Linked DNA regions of Homo sapiens: region 1 is linked to region 2. Evidence: fine-mapped expression QTL. Tissue or cell type: esophagus muscle. Region 2 holds a variant in brackets; the other region holds the start of a gene. All regions are shown on one strand. Distances are between the middles of the regions.

Region 1 (8,182 bases), 95 kb before region 2:
GGCCCAGGCTGGCCTCAAACTCCTGGCCTCAAGTGATCCTCCTGCCTTGGTCTCCCAAAGTGCTGGGATTACAATTTCCCCCAAGATTAACGAGCCCTCCTTTCTTAAGACTTTCTCTTCCCGCCTTTTGCAAATCTTTCTTTCTCTCCGGCCTCCTCTCCTGATACAAGAGTCTTTTGTGAATGTTCTAGCGCGTTACTATAGCCTATAGTTATTATAGCCTATAGTTAATGACTATAACATTACTATAACGTTACTATAGCCTATAGTTAATGACTATTAACCACAATCATCACCTGTCACCACTTGACACAGCATCTCACAGTGTCCCTCACCTTCAAAGTTGCTTCCAACTCTGCTTTCAAATATCTGAAAACAGCTGGGCGCGGTGGCTCACACCTGTAATCCCAGCACTTTGGGAGGCCAAGGTGGGCAGATCACCTGAGGTCAGGAGTTTGAGACCAGCCTGGCCAACATGGTGAAACCCCGTCTCTACTAAAAAAATACAAAATTAGTCGGGCATGGTGGTGCTCGCCCGTTTTCCCAGCTACTCGGGAGGCTGAATGAGGAGTATCACTTGAACCTGGGAGTCAGATGTTGCAGTGAGCCAAGATGTCACCACTGTACTCCATCCTGGGCAACAGAGTGAGAATCTGTCTCAAAAAAAAAAAAAAAAAAAAGAGGCCGGGCGCAGTGTCTCATGCCTATAATCCCAGCACTTTGGGAGGCTGAGACGGGCGGATCACGAGGTCAGGAGATCAAGACCATACTGTCTAACATGGTGAAACCCTGTCTCTACGAAAAATACAAAAAAAATTAACCGGGCGTGGTGGCGGGCACCTGTAGTCCCAGCTACTCGGGAGGCTGAGGCAGGAGAATGGCGTGAACCTGGGAGGCGGAGCTTGCAGTGAGTTGAAATTGCACCACTACACTCCAGCCTGGGCGACAGAGCGAGACTCTGTCTCAAAAAAATAAATAAATAAAATATATATATATACACGTATGTGTGTATATATATGTATATATATGAAGAACAAGAAGTGCAGAGAAAATATCCTAGTCATTGAAAAATTGGTTACTTTGTTTCTGCACTGCAAAGTTACTTTAAACTTTGTAATGAATCTAGTGGAGAGATCATTTGAGATGAGGCAAATGTCCTGTTTCTCATCATACATTTACCCACTAATTTTAGCCTGTATTGATGATAATTCTCACCTGCAACAGTTACTGTGGTCTTTGCCAAATGGTGATTTTCTTTTTCTATTTTCATCATTCCTTCTATATTAATTAATTGGAATTCTACTGTAAGGAAAAGTTGTTCCTTCTAACCCATTGATTTGTTCAATCATGTATTTAAGTAGGACCTATATTTTACTTGTTCCTTGCTATATCTTCAGTGTGTAGTACAGTGTCTGACACAAAATCGGTGCTCAATAATAGGTGTTGGATGAATGAGCAAATGAATGAATGAATTCATATTCATATGGCCTACAGAGTTCCCGTACATGCACAACCAATATCACCACCCCGTGGAGATGACTCCCAAATTAATATTTTTAGCAAATGTTCCAGACTTACAACTCCAACTTCCCGGGGGACATCTTCAGATAGCTGTGCCACTGCCACCACCAGGTCAACATGTCCCAAACCATTCAGACCAGCTTTTTCTCCTGAGCTGGACATCTGGCCTCCAACCTTTTCATTCTCTTTTACCTTTCATATTCTATCAGCAGCAGCAGCTGCTGAAATCATACCATGCAAGTTTCTCACGTCCATCTCTGCCTTTTAATGGCGCCCTCTCACTCCTTTAAGAAGTTTTCTTCCACTGCAACACGATCTCTCAGTCCAGAGTCTGGCCCAGTGCCCAAATTATTTCTCTAGCTATGCTGAGAGCTGGTCATGCTTTGAACTTCTGCTTTGAATACTTTCAGTGACACTGGGAGAGAATTATCTCATTGGACCATTGTCATTGTTAGAAAATTCATTGTTATGCTGAAATGAAATGATTTTATTCACACACACACACACACACACACAAAATAGCTCTTCCTCCTGGAACATGACTGGCCTGAAAATGTGTGAAGACATATCCAATCCTCTCTGGTTTTACTGTTCATCCAATTTTCTGTTCTCCTCCTGGCAGGAGGATTATATTTCACCTTGTGGAACTCAGACATGGTCGGGTAACTAGCTCTGGTCCGTGAAAATTGAGAGGAAGTGACATGTGTCACTTCTGGGCAGAAGCTTTGAGAGCCGGTTTAAATGATCCCTTTTCTCTTCATCCATGAGACAAGCTAAGTTCCAGAGAGAGGGTGCCACGCTGTGAGGGACCTGTGTTACGAGTACGATGGCTCGCGTCACTTCAAATTCTTGAAATCACTGAAATTTGGAGGTCAGTTGTTACATCATAACCCAGCCAATTCTAGTTAGCCTGTTTTCTTCCTAACTTCTTTAATCGTTCTTCATAAGTCACAATCGCAGCCCCTCACCGTTCTGACCACTGTCCCCTGGATTCCACTCAGTTTACTCATTATCCCCCTTAAAATGTGGAGCCCAAATCTGAACCCGGAACCCCAGGTGCAATCCCACTAGGACACAACACAATGGGTTCCTGAGCCCTTTGATCCTCTGAATAGAGCCCCTTGTTGCTTTGGTGTTTTGTCTCTGTGTGTGCTTTTATCATCGGCTGAGCCACGCTGTTAACTCGCAGTGAGCCTGTGAACCAATAACTAGAGAAAAAAGATTTTTCCCATTGTCCTCTCGACATATATTGGGAAACAAATTTTTTGATCCGCGTTCAAGTAGACAGGGCAGAACTGTCCAACTGCTACGTGATCTTTTAAAGACAAAGTTAGTGGCAGACCATTTACAGAAACCAGATGTTCTGTCTTTTGGCTCTGAGCATGCTGCTAATCTTCATCATCTAGTGTACTGAACGAGATGTACTGAACGAGGGCTGCAGAGCTGCAGCACCGGCAGGAGTAGGCGCTCGGTAGGACGGGGCCTGCACAACCTCCCCGGTAGTCAGCAGAGCGGAATCTAGGAAGGCTCCTTTCCCGCGGCGCCCTGGAGGCGGGGGCCCCACCTTCCCACGCAGGCGCTATCAAGCCCCGCCTCCTCACCCGCCCGCGGCGTGGCGTCGGAAAGAGCCCTCAGCCCCTCCCTCTCTGGCGCTGATACCCAATGGGCAGCCTCAGGCCTTTAGCGGGGGCGGGGCACCCCCTGGACGCCGTTCTGGTTGGCCCGCGGCCCGGCGCAGCGCATGACGTTATTACGACTCTGTCACGCCGCGGTGCGACTGAGGCGTGGCGTCTGCTGGGGCACCTGAAGGAGACTTGGGGGCACCCGCGTCGTGCCTCCTGGGTTGTGAGGAGTCGCCGCTGCCGCCACTGCCTGTGCTTCATGAGGAAGATGCTCGCCGCCGTCTCCCGCGTGCTGTCTGGCGCTTCTCAGAAGCCGGTGAGACCTCCCGGGCGGGCCGGGATGGGGCGCGAGTGGGGCTGAGGCGGGGCCGGAGGGCAGGGCGGGCCAGGCCGGGCCACCCAGAGCGGGGTGGAAGGCGCCAGGGGAGCCGGGGAGCCTTTACTTCGCCTCCGCGCCCTGCATTCCGTTCCTGGCCTCGGGAGAAGCGGCACGGACCGGGATCACGCCAAGGTCCGTGTGAACTTCCCCCTTCTCGACACCCACCTCCCGCCCCCGGGCCCAGCTGTGCGCCAGGCGAAGTCGGTGTGCTCAAGAGGTGCCTGTTGGGTTACAGGACACGGAAAGGGTGGCCTCGGCCTCCTTCGAGTCTCCAATTGACCCCACTCATTTCGGATCTTCTAACTTAATTTCTCTTGACCGAGAGGCTTTGTAATAGCGTAGAATCTGGAGACAGGGTGGCTTCGTTCAAACAGCACCCTCACCATTGACTAGCCCTGTGACCTTGAGCAAGTTTTTAAACGTCCCGGGGACCCGGTTTCCTAAAATGTTTGCTCGAAGTGGAGTTAATCTCTAAATGGAGATAAGAGTTATCTCTGAAATGTTATCAGTTAACTCTAAAATGGAGATAATAAGAGTCCCCACCTCTTGGGGTTGTCTTGAGGATTCAACGAGTGACACGTGTGGAAACGATTCCAAATAGCACCTGGCACATAATCGATAACATGTGTGTTGAATAGTGTTATTTATTGAGTCTCCAGTTCGGTATACATTTCTTGAACACCTGTGCTCAGTTCTGAGGCGGGTTCACAGAAGGTCAGCCTCTTCAGAAACAAACTTCCTCCTCTTCCCTCTCCCTCAACATCTGAGCTTTTCTTGGCAGTGAGTTCAGGAGCGCCGAAGCAGAACTCAGAGGACGCTGCCCTCCCCTCCCCTTACCTACACATTCTTAGGGTACAAGTAGCTAAAGCAAAGAGCAACGATGCTTGAGGGGTGGGGGGTAGAGTTTAGCACTATTTCATGGCCTCAGCATTTAGAGGTGCCTAACACCTGAGCTAGCATTCTGACCCCCCTAGGCACAGTGAGGTCGTGTTAATTGGTGTAACTGCAGGCCTCGGGATTCTGGTATTTCCCCCAGGACTTGATACCGCTCTACTTAGTACAGGCAGAGATTGTCAAAAGGTAAGAGGTATGCCCCTCTAGGAATCCTGTTGCCTAAAATAATGACAAAACTGCCGGGTGCGGTGGCTCAGGCCTGTAATCCCAGCATTTTGGGAGGCTGAGGCAGGTGGATCACCTGAGGTCAGAAGTTCGAGATCAGCCTGGCCAACATGGTGAAACCCCGTCTCTACTAAAAATACAAAATTAGCCGGTCGTGGTGGCGGGCTCCTGTAATCCCAGCTACTCGGGAGGCTGAGGCGGGAGAATAGCCTGAACCCGGGAGGCGGAGTTTGCAGTGAGCGGAGATCGTGCCATTGCACTACGGCCTGGGCGACAAGAGCAAGACTCCGTATTTTAAAAAAAAAAAAAAAAAAAAAAAAAAAAAAGCGTTCCCTTTAGGGATATCTGTGGGTAGAGGGCTGTACCGGTAGTTACGGGCTCAGAAACATCCTTCCTTTAGGCACCTGATGTAGGTTTTCTTCTTCTTCTGCAAGTCAGGTTCATTGTTTCCTGTATCAGTTTGCAGGGTCCCCCCCCCCCCGCCACCTTACAGTAGGAAGAAAATTGAGTTCCAGATATGAAGTCACCTTTGAAAGTGCCCAGGTATCTTTCCACTTGGTGGTGTAAACTCTTCAGATAATTAGAAGTTTTCTGTGTCACTCAACTTGTCATGGACTAATTAGGAACCATTCCTGAAGCTTTTAAGGATAGAACTAAAAGTTTCACTTTTATTTTTTTAAAGGGTGGAATAATAAACTAACGTGTTGACTCTTTGTATTTTGTAATTCTTCATACTTATGGATGTCTTTTTACTTAACTATAAGTAACAAAATAGATCAACGTTTTAGTTTTTTATATTATACATGTAAAAAGACATTTTGCATATAAGCCTTTCACAAAAATCTTGACAGTAAACAATAAGCAGTGGCTCACCCAAATTAGGCAGACTTACTGCACTAGACTCCTACCATCTGTGTGATACTCCATGAAGGGAGGGAGAAGGGGAGGGAGAAGGGTAGGCAGCTGGTCTGATGGCTGTGACACAAGATAATCCCCTTAACCTCCCAAGACGCTGTGTGTTTTTTCCTTTTTTATTCTCCCTGGTTTACTTTCGTTTTGTTTGAGACAGGGTCTCTGTGTCACCCAGGCTGGAGTGCAGTAGCAGGACAGCTCACTGCAGCCTTAGCCTGCTGGGCTCAAGCGATCCTCCTGCCTTAGCCTCCTGAGTAGCTGGGAACACAGGCATGTGCCACCACCACACCCAGCCAATTAAAAAAATTTTTTTTTTACTAGAGACATGGTCTTGCTACGTTGCCCAGTCTGGTCTCCATCTCCAGGCTCAAGCAGTCCTCCCACCTCGGCCTCCCAAAGTGCTGGGATTACTCTCACTCTCTTAAAACCAGGCAGGTAGGGAGATTTATCTCAGGCTTAAAGATTGCCATTGTCTCATCAAAGAGTGTTTGGTGTGAAACTTTGAAATGAATATCAAGATTGTGTTTTTATTTTTGAATAAGGTTTATAGTTTTCATAGTTCTTATTTCATGGAAGAAGATTGAATGCATTTAAAATGTTATTTTATTGTTTGCATTTCTGTATGGCTCCTTTTGTGAGATCTTTACTAGCAATGTTTTGGCTTTATAAGTGGTAGGTAAGAGTTTTAATTTACACTGTTAGAATCTGGAATTTTTGAAACGTTTTTCCTCTTTCACATGAATGGTTCCTATGTATTTAGGAAGTTAAAGTTTTACTTTTTTTTAATTAATTTTTTTTTTTAGGCTGGAATGCAGTGGCACAGTCATAGCTCACTGTAGCCTCAGGTGTGTGCCACCATACCTGACTAATTTTTTAATATTTATTTTTGTAGAGATGAGAGTCTCATGTTGCCCAGGCTGGCTTTGAACTCCTGGCTTCAAGTGGTCCTCCCACCCTGGCCTCCCAAAGTGCTGGGGATTATAGGTGTGAGCCATCATGCCCGGCCTAGTTTTTATTTTTTAAAATTTGAGTGGGTTGTTCGTGGTCTCTGTCAGAGAGGAATCCCATTTAACAGAGAATCTTTTTATGGCTCTCCAGAGAAAATGAATGGTAAACTTATCTTTTCAACAAGCTCTCACTCAGAAATGATACACACACACTTCTGATAGGACTTTTAGCTTCTTTAACTTTGTTCCTTTCACTCATATCAGTGGTTCTTATTTTTGAGATACACAGTAATGAAGCCATGGGAGAAAGTATCTAAGTAGCTTTCTGGCAGTCCTAATCTTTGCAGGCGCAAGATTACAGGCGCATGCCACAGCACTGGGCCCCTTCTTGCTCTTTATTGTATAGCATTATCCTGCCTCATTGTTTCAACTCTAGGATTGAGAAAGAAGTTACCTTTTCTCTGTTACTGTCGCCTGGCTGGTTTGGACTCCTGCCTTCCAAAAACTGCAGTTTCTGTAGTTGTATTTGGAAATTTATTTCACAATACAATAAATTTCTGGCCCCACAAAATATTTATTAACTGCCAAGAATAACACATCTGTTTGATTGCTAAATATAACCATTGATTTGCTGTTTCACCTTCTCTCAGCTTTACTTCTTCCCAAATTCCTAAATTTCCTTCACTTTTTCTGAGATACATTAGTGGACTGTCTCTGCCTGTAAGTTAACTGAAACACTGATTCCTAGTATTTCAGTTGTTTTCCTCCAGCACTGTCATTGTCTGTGTTTGTTGGCTTTGTCCAATAATGGTCTATTGAGGGGTGAAGATATACGTAATTAGCTTTCTGCCTATTGGCTTGTACACTCCAGGGTATACTTGGCAGATCAGTCTTAACTCTTCTCACCAAGATCAGTCCAGTGCTGGATTAGGTAAGGTATGAACACATCAGATGTGCTTTTTATGGAGAAATCATGTTGGTTTACACGTCAGTGTGTGAGAATGTGGCAGAAGGGAGCTAAAATAGTATGATAATACTACTGGATAAATTTTGTGGTCTAACCTAAACCTTAGCCATTACATAGAATACTTTTGCTGTGAGCAGGTTTGCTCAGTTGTAAAACTGGAAAGGAATCATTTCTCACCCCCCGCCTCCAAGCTTTTTACCTCCAAACAGTGACAGCCACCCAAACATCAAGAGAACAGTGTTTCAGAGAACATTTCTACTGGGGCTTCAGGAGGAGCCTGTCCAAGATTTAGGCTGTTCAAATTATAAATTATAAAACAGCTGGCTCAAGCCCATTGTGTTTAAGTCAGAGAGTGCTAAGTATCTTTTCTTTTGTCTTGTCTCCCTAAAGTATTTATCTCATACTTCAATCAATTTAAAATATTTTTTCTTACAGATCCAATTTGATAGAAGAGTCAAGTTTGCCTAGAGTGGAGATTAAATCATAGTTTTATTTGAAGTATAATTTTGGCTTGCTCAAAATGAACAGTATCTGGTTATGACTAAGAATGGCATGAAAAGGCCAGACGCAGTGGCTCATGCCTGCAATCCCAGTACTTTGGGAGGCCAAGGCAGGTGGATCACCTGAGGTCAGGAGTTGGAGACCAGCCTGGCCAACATGGTGAAACCCCATCTCTACTAAAAATATAAAAATTAGCCGGGCGTGGTGGTGGGCA
Region 2 (8,182 bases):
ATAAACAAAACAAAAATCAAACATTTGAAAAAATTAAAAGCAAAGAGATTTTCAGCTTAAAAGCCACTTTAAGACAGGTGTTAAATAGCTAATCCCTTTAGTGGTTAATAATCAGCTTTTGGATCTGCTTATCATTTCCAGATCCCAAGGTATCCAAGAACAAGCCTACAGATAAAAACTCCTATGTTGAATCAGCCAGCAACATCTGTTTCTGGCAATTAAGGCCATTTCACAATTAAGAGAAGGAAACTTTGACAGTGGGTCTGAATCTTGGCTGCATATTAGAATCACCTGGGAGGCTGGGCGTGGTGGCTCACGCCTGTAATCCCAGCACTTTGGGAGGCCAAGGCGGGCAGATTACCTGAGGTCAGGAGTTCGAGACCAGCCTGGCCAACATGGTGAAACCCTGTCTCCACTAAAAATACAAAAATTAGCAGGGCATGGTGGCAGGTGCCTGCAGTCCCAGCTACTCGGGAGGCTGAGATAGGAGAATCACTTGAACCCAGGAGGCGGAGGTTGCAGTGAACCGAGATCGCACCATTGTCCTCCAGTCTGGGCAACAAGAGGGAAACGCCATGTCAAAAAAAAAAAAAAGAAAGAAAGAAAAAAAAAATTCAATCACCTAGGAGCTTAAATCTGAATCTCTGGAGACCCAGACATCAGTGCTTCTCATGCTGGACTTTCTGCGTCAGTGGGTTGGCATCATTGCTGAATCCACCACTCCCTTCTCACTCCTTGTCCTATTTCACATACATGTGCATTTGACAACCGTGCACCCCTTCCTCCTTGGACTACTTTTATCATCTGATTTGCAGGACACCACACTCGCCCGATTTTCTCCTACTTTAGTCCATCTCTCTGATCTTTTCACATTGGAGTGTCCCTTGGCAGTACCCTTGGACATTTCATCTTTCTTGGTAACTACCCTAGATCCCTTGATCATCCATTGCCATGACTTTTCAAACCATCCATATTTTGATGACTTCCAAATTTCTATCTCCAGCCTAGGCCTCTCCCCTAAAATCCAGACTCACATATCCAACTGCCCTCTCAGCAACTCATTTGCATGTTGATACCTCAAACTTAACGTGTCCCAAATCAAACTTTTTTTTGTCCCCCTCAGACAGAGTCTCAACTCTGTCATCCAGGCTGGAATGGTGTGATGCATTCTCAGCTCACTGCAACCTCTAACTCACAGGCTGAAGCGACTCTCATGCCTCAGCCTCCCAAGTAGCTGGGATTACAGGCGTGCACCACCAGGCCCAGCTAATTTTTGCATTTTTAGTAGAAACAGCGTTTAGCCATGATGACCAGGGTGGTCTTGAACTCCTGGCCTCAAGTGATCTGCCCACCTTGGCCTCCTCAAGTGCTGGGATTACAAGTGTGCACCACCATGGCTGGCCCCAAATCAAACTCTTGATTGTCCCATCAAACCTGTTCTTCTACAGTCTTCCTCTTCTTGTTAAATGGCCAATCCATTCTTCCTCTTACTCAGGCCAAAAACTTTGCAGTCATGTTTGGTTCCTCTAACACCATTTATTGGACCAGGAGATTCCACTGGCTTTTATTTCAAACTACATCTGAAATTGACCCACTCCTCATAAAGCCCACCCTTACCACTCTGGTCCAAGCCATGTCATTTCCTGCTTCCACACTTACCTCTCTACTATCTAGTCTCAACACAGAAGTCATAGTGATCCTCTGCGCTGTAAGGCAGGTCATGTCATCCTTCGACTCAAAACTCACCAGTGGCTCCCATCTTAGAGCAAACACCAATTTTCTTCCAATGGCCTGTAAGGATCTACAAGATGTGGTCCTAGTTATTTCTCCAACCTCATCTCTTACCACTCCTGTGCCCCGATCACCTACTATGCTCCAGCTACACAAGCTTCCTTGCTGTTCCACATGCTGATCCCTCTACCTGAAATGATCTTCCCCCACATACCACATGGTATGTTCCCTTGCCTCTTTCTGATCTTTGCTCCATGTCACTTTCTAATAGGTGTGGTCTTCTCTGAGCACTCAACTTAAAATTACAATCTTCCCATCCTACTTACTGGCTACCCTATCACCCTAAACTGTTTTAATACATTTAGGTTTTTTTTATTCTATCTCCCCATTTTAGAATGCAAGCTCCGAGAGGGTGGAGACTTTTTGGGTCTGATTTGTTAACTACTGTACTTAGAACTGGATCTGGCACAAAGTAGGTGATCAATAAGTGTCTGTTAAATGAATGACTAACTGAGCAGTTATTGTAGTGACATGGAGAGATCTCTAAGCATCGATTACTATGTGAAAAAAACAACAGTATACCTCCTGTGTGGTCCTATAGTTTAAAAACTCTGCAGTATGACATATTTTCACAGTATGTAAAGTACATAGAAAATTGTCTCCAAGGATATTACACCAAACTGACAAGACAGGTTACTTCCGGAATATGGACGGGACAAGAGATTAGAGTTTAGAGGGATAACTGCTTTAAATGGATTGTTTTTCAGTTTTTCACAGTAATATACAAACATATTCATCTATTATCACTTTTGTTTTTTTGAGGCAGGGTCTTGCTCTGTTGCCCAAGTGGAATGCACTGAGTGGTGTGATCACGGCTCACTGTAGGCTCAAGCTCCTGGGCTCAAGTGAAACTCCTGCCTCAGAGTGCTGGGAATACAGGCACGCATGACCACACCTAGCTTTTATTTTTATTTATTTATTTGGTAGAGATGGGGTCTCACTATGTGGCCCAGGCTGATCTCAAACTCCTAGGCTCAAGTGATCCTCTCGCCTTGGCCTCCCAAAGTGCTGAGACTGCAGGCATGAGCCAACACATCTATTACTTATGTAAAAAATGCACAGAATAAAAACACAACACTGGATTGGGAATCATATAGAGCTAGATCCTGGCTATTTTCACACCATTTATTACCCAATTGAATTTTGAGGAGGGCACTTAGCCCTTCTGTGCCTCAGTCCTTCACCTGAAGTGTCTGACTTTGCTTACCTCAAAGCATTGCCATGAGCTATGGGTGTGCCAGAGCACTGACTTGCCATCAACCATCCTGTCTCCCTGGCCCTCTTTTCTATACTGTGTGTCTGTAAGAGGAAATTCATAGGGCAAGAGACAAATAGAATCCCAATAAATCCTCCTTCTAAGCCAGCCCTGAGCTTTAACACACAAAAGGTCTCATTAGACCAGTGTCCTTTCTAGAATAAACTTTGTGTTGGGTCACCTGTCAAAAACCTTACAAGAGACTTCTGCTTCCAATTAAGATGTAGAAGAATGTGAAAGGTCTTCACTCCTGTAGTGACAATAAAAACCCCAACAAATGTAAAAATCACACTGAGTCCGGGCACAGTGGCTCATGCCTGTAATCCCAGCACTTTGGGAGGCCGAGACGGGCAGATCACTTGAGGTCAGGAGTTTGAGACCAGTCTGGCCAACATGGTGAAACCCTGTCTCTACAAAAATACAAAAATTAGCCAGGTGTGGTGGTAGGTGCCTGTAATCCTAGCCAGTCGGGAGTCTGAGGCAGGAGAATTGCTCAAACCCAGAAGGTGAAGGTTGCAGTGAGTAGAGGTCGTGCCACCGGCCCTCACTCTCCCTCTCACCATATGAGCTGCCTGCTCCGCCTTCACCTTCTGCCATGAATAAAACCTGCCTGAGACCTCCCCAGAAGCTGAGCAGACACCAATGCCATGCTTGTACAGTCTGCAGAACTGTGAGCCAATTAAACCTGTTTTCTTTATAAATCACCCAGTCTCTGGTATTTCTTTATAGCAATATGAGAACGGCCTAACACAGGGATATAATATTCTATATCTTGATTGTGGTGGTAGTTTCATGGGTGTGTTTATTTGGCCAAACTCATCAAATCGTGCACTTAAAATTTTAGTTTATTGTATGGTGGTTTTTTGAGACAGGATCTCACTGTCACCCAGGTTGGAATACTGTGGCATGGTCATAGCTCAACCACAGCCTTCAACTCCCAGCCTCAAGCAATCCTCCCATCTCAGCCTCCTGAGTAGCTGGGACTATAGGCGTACACCACCAAGGCAAGATAATTTTTTCATTTTTATTTTATAGACAGAGTCTCACTGTGTTGTCCAGGCTGGTCTCAAACTCCTGGCCTCAAGTGATCCTCCCACCTCGGCCTGCCAAAGTACTAGGATTACAGGCATGAGTCACAGTGCCCGGCCTATGGTATGTAAGTTACACCTTATTAAAGCTGACTTTAAAAATACTAGAAACTGAGCAGTAATTCTGAATAGTGTCCTACTGGGGCAATCACTGGGGTCTGCCCTCAAATGCATTCTTGGCCTTTCTGCAGCCCTGCTTTGTGTTACAGGGGAGCTGACTCCTCTAGGCTGCTGTGCTCAGCTGACAGCAACCGGTGGGAGGCACTGGGGGCAGAGGGTGAGGCCCTGGAGGATGGGATGGAAGAAGCCAGCGCAGTTTCTTCTCCCACTTTTTCTTGGTGTGCATGGCCACTCCAGCAATAGCCACATCTCTTTGTTAGACCCAGCTCCCACCAGGCTGGCTCACGATTGTTCCAGGTGATCCTGGCACCTGGGCTCTGGTAACATCACCTCTTCCCTGGGTCCCTCCAGCCAAGCGGGTGACAGCAGCTTCCTGCTGATGCTAACTTCAGGGCTGCCTCATCATTTCCGATTGGTTTGTCAGCTCTTCTATCACCTGTGTAACCAATTTCCTACATTAAGTTTCTTCTATTTTAAATACTTAGAGTGGTCTTTGTTTCCCGATTGGACCCTGACAAATACACA[C/G]CTACCACAAGAAAGCAGGTGCCCTGCTCTGGCCAGATGCCTCGTATTTACATACATGGAAGGGAACAACTAGAAGCGACCTGTGTCTTAGTGTGAACAATGTTCAGAGTCAAATAAACGTACAGATCCGAATAGTTGTTTTTCTACTCTACAAATAGGACCCAGTTATGTATCAGGCACAATCACCATGAAATCATCCACCCTAGCTGCCATCATCCCAACCTTTCCCAGTCTCCTGGGATGGCAAAGCACCACCTGTGAAGGCCAGGGTCTACAGTGGGCTGATAGGCCCTCTGATGGGGCTGGGCATTTCCCAGGCTGGCTTTCCCATTCACACAAAGGCAGCAGGAGCTGAAGAGTGGCCTTGCCTGAACTCTCTGTCCTGCTCTGTGACATGTCACCAGGAATCTCCACGCTGATAGATCCAGTTAAACTCTACTCCTTATTTGCAAGTTGTAGCAGCATCACCAAGCCCCATTTCTTTTTTTCCTGGGCACTCAGCCAGACCACATTTCCCAAGTTCCCTTGAAGTGAGATTAGGACACGAGACTGACTTGTGGCCGATGAAACATGGAAAGAAGTAATGAACATCACTTCCTGAGCAGGCTCCTACAACCCTCTCTAGTACAGTCAAAAGTGCAAACAACTCAAATGCCCATCAACTGATGAATTAATAAAGTGTGGCCTATCTGTACAATGGAATATTAAGCCAAAAAAAGGAATGAAGTCCTGACACATGATACCACATGGATGAACCTTGAAGACAGTATGCTAAGGAAGCCAGACACACACAAAACACATATTGTATGATTCCATTTATATGAAATGGCCAGAACAGGCAAAGCCATAGAGACAGAAAAGAGACTAGTGTTTTCCTCAGGCTAGAGAGTGAGGCGGAAGAAGAGGGGGTACCCATTAACAGGTTGCCAAAATGGATCAGTGATTGCTTAGGAATAGGGGGGGAAGAATTGAGGGAAGCTGGGAAGTGGGGTTAAGTGGTAATGGGTATGGGCTTTTGGTGGCGGGGGGAGGATGATGAAAACATTCTAAAACTGATCGTAGTGATGGTTGTACAACTCCGAATATGCTAAAAAAACCCACCGACTTGTACACTTTAAATGGGTTGTTTTTTGGGTCTTTGAGACAGGGTTTGGGTCCGTCGTCCAGGCTGGAGTGCAGTGGCACGATCTCACTGCATCCTCCGACTCCAGGGCTCAAGCCATCCCGAGTAGCTGGGAATATAGGCATGCACCATAATGCCTGGTTAATTTTTTTGTATTTTTTTGTAAAGACAGGGTTTTGCCATGTTGCCCAAGCTAGTCTCGAACTCCTGAACTCAAGCCATCCGCCTGCCTTGGCCCCGCAAAGTGCTGGGATTACAGGTGTGAGCCAATGCATCCAGCCAAAATGGGTTAATTGTATGGTATGAGAATTACATCTCAGCAAAGCTGTTCCAAACACAGATACAAAACCTCTCTAACAAGTCACCATGCTCTTTTCCTATCATCTGGCTGAAAGGAGATCTGAGGATCCAGGAGAGGGCAGAGCCTCAAGATGTAAGGAGACTGAGTTCACCAAGAAATCACCTGAAGAAGAGACTGCCCAGCCAGGATACATCCACATTGGAATAGTGCATGAGTGAAAAGAAACTTCCATCATGTGAAGTCACTGAAATTGTGGGGCTGTCTGTTACAACAGTTACACTAGCCTAATACACAAGTCAACACCACCGAGGCGGCAGGGGTTCCCTCGGTCAGGAAGATCTGTTCCCCTCTGAGTTTTTATCAAATCCCTTTTTTAGCAGACACCAGGGATTCTCACGCTAGGAAGACTTCCATCACCACTGACCCTGACCTAGCCCATGTGGACTCCTCTACTTTTCTGCATTCCCTGCTTTGGGCCACACCCTACTTCAATGGTTATCTTTGGGTAGTGGTATCAACGGTAATTATGTTTTTATATTTTTCTGTATACAATGAGTATGTCTGACTTGGATGTTTTTGTTTTTAAGCACAGACTCACATATAAATAAAGAAAATACAATACGTTTACTTTCTACTACCAAACTTTAAATTAACTGTAGCACCCAGACACTCATTATGTGGCTCTCTTCTAATACTATACCACAGTTGATCATTAGTCACTTCTTCATTCACTTACCCATTCAACAATTTTTTTTTTTTTTTTTGAGGCAGAGTCTCACTCTGTCGCCCAGATTGGAGTACAGTGGTGCGATCTCGACTCACTGCAACCTCTGCCTCCTGGGTTCAAGTGATTCTCCTGCCTCAGCCTCCCAAGTAGCTGGGACTACAGGCATGTATTACCATGCCTGGCTTTTATTTTATTATTATTATTATTATTATCATTATTATTATTATTATTATTTTGAGATGGACTCTGACTCTGTTGCCCAGGCTGGAGTGCAGTGACACAATCTCGGCTCACTGCAATCTCCACTTCCCGGGTTCAGTTGATTCTCCTGCCTCAGCCTCCCGAGTACCTGGGATTACAGGTGCGCACCACCACACCTGGGTAATTTTTTATATTTTTAGTAGAGACGGGGTTTCACCATGTTGGCCAGGCTGGTCTCAAACTCCTGACCTCAAGTGATCCACCTGCCTCGACCTCCCAAAGTGCTGGGATGACAGGCATGAGCCACCATGCCCGGCTTTTTTTTTTTTTTTTTTTTTTTTTTTTGAGATGGAGTCTCGCTCTGTCGCCCAGACTGGACTGCAGTGGCACAATCTCAGCTCACTGCAACTTCCGCCTCCCGGGTTCAAGTGATTCTCATGCCTCAGCCTTCTGAGTAGCTGGGATTACAGGTATGTGCCACCATGCCTGGCTCATTTTTGTATTTTTAGTAGAAACGGGGTTTTACCATGTAGACCAGGCTGGTCTCAAACTCCTGACCTCAAGTGATCTGCCTGCCTCGACCTCCCAAAGTGCTGGGATGACAGGCATGAGCCACTGCGCCCAACCCCATTCAACAAATCTTTACTGAGTGCCTACTCTGTGGGTGGCACAATGTTACTAGGCACTGGCTATATCACGGCCTAGTATACACCATGGCCCCTGCCCCCTCAGGCTTATAGTACAGCAGGAGGGATGATAGGTATTAAGCAAGTAAACACAGAAATGGAGTGCTATAAAGGGAAATAGCAAGCGCTATGAGAATGAGTAACAATAGGAACATCCTTTCCAGACTTGGTATTCTTTGCAACATCAGCTTTTCTCAGAAAGAGACACTGAAACTAGACCCTGAAGGATCATCAGCTTCAGTCAGGTAAGCAATGAGGGAACGAGTATTCTGGGCGGGGGCACAGCATATGCTAACATCCACAGCTGAGAACAGCCTGCTGCCCTAAGACTGAAGGCGGATGAGGGCAGCTAGAGAGGAGCAAAC

Evidence for each region. PIP is the estimated chance that this variant, and not a neighbour inherited with it, causes the effect.
Region 1: PDHA1 starts here. The variant in region 2 is fine-mapped to the expression of PDHA1 in esophagus muscle (GTEx, PIP above 0.99).

The regions. Positions count from the first base shown.
Region 1 is chrX:19,340,636-19,348,817 of GRCh38, forward strand. PDHA1 (pyruvate dehydrogenase E1 subunit alpha 1) reads left to right here and starts at 3,292. Exons shown (of 11, transcript NM_000284.4): 1 at 3,292-3,459. The coding sequence starts at 3,403.
Region 2 is chrX:19,435,575-19,443,756 of GRCh38, forward strand. All of the region lies in intron 6 of MAP3K15 (mitogen-activated protein kinase kinase kinase 15), which reads right to left. Among named protein-coding and RNA genes, the nearest start is that of MAP3K15, 76 kb to the right of the region's middle. The variant C/G (reference allele first, on the strand shown) is at 4,780.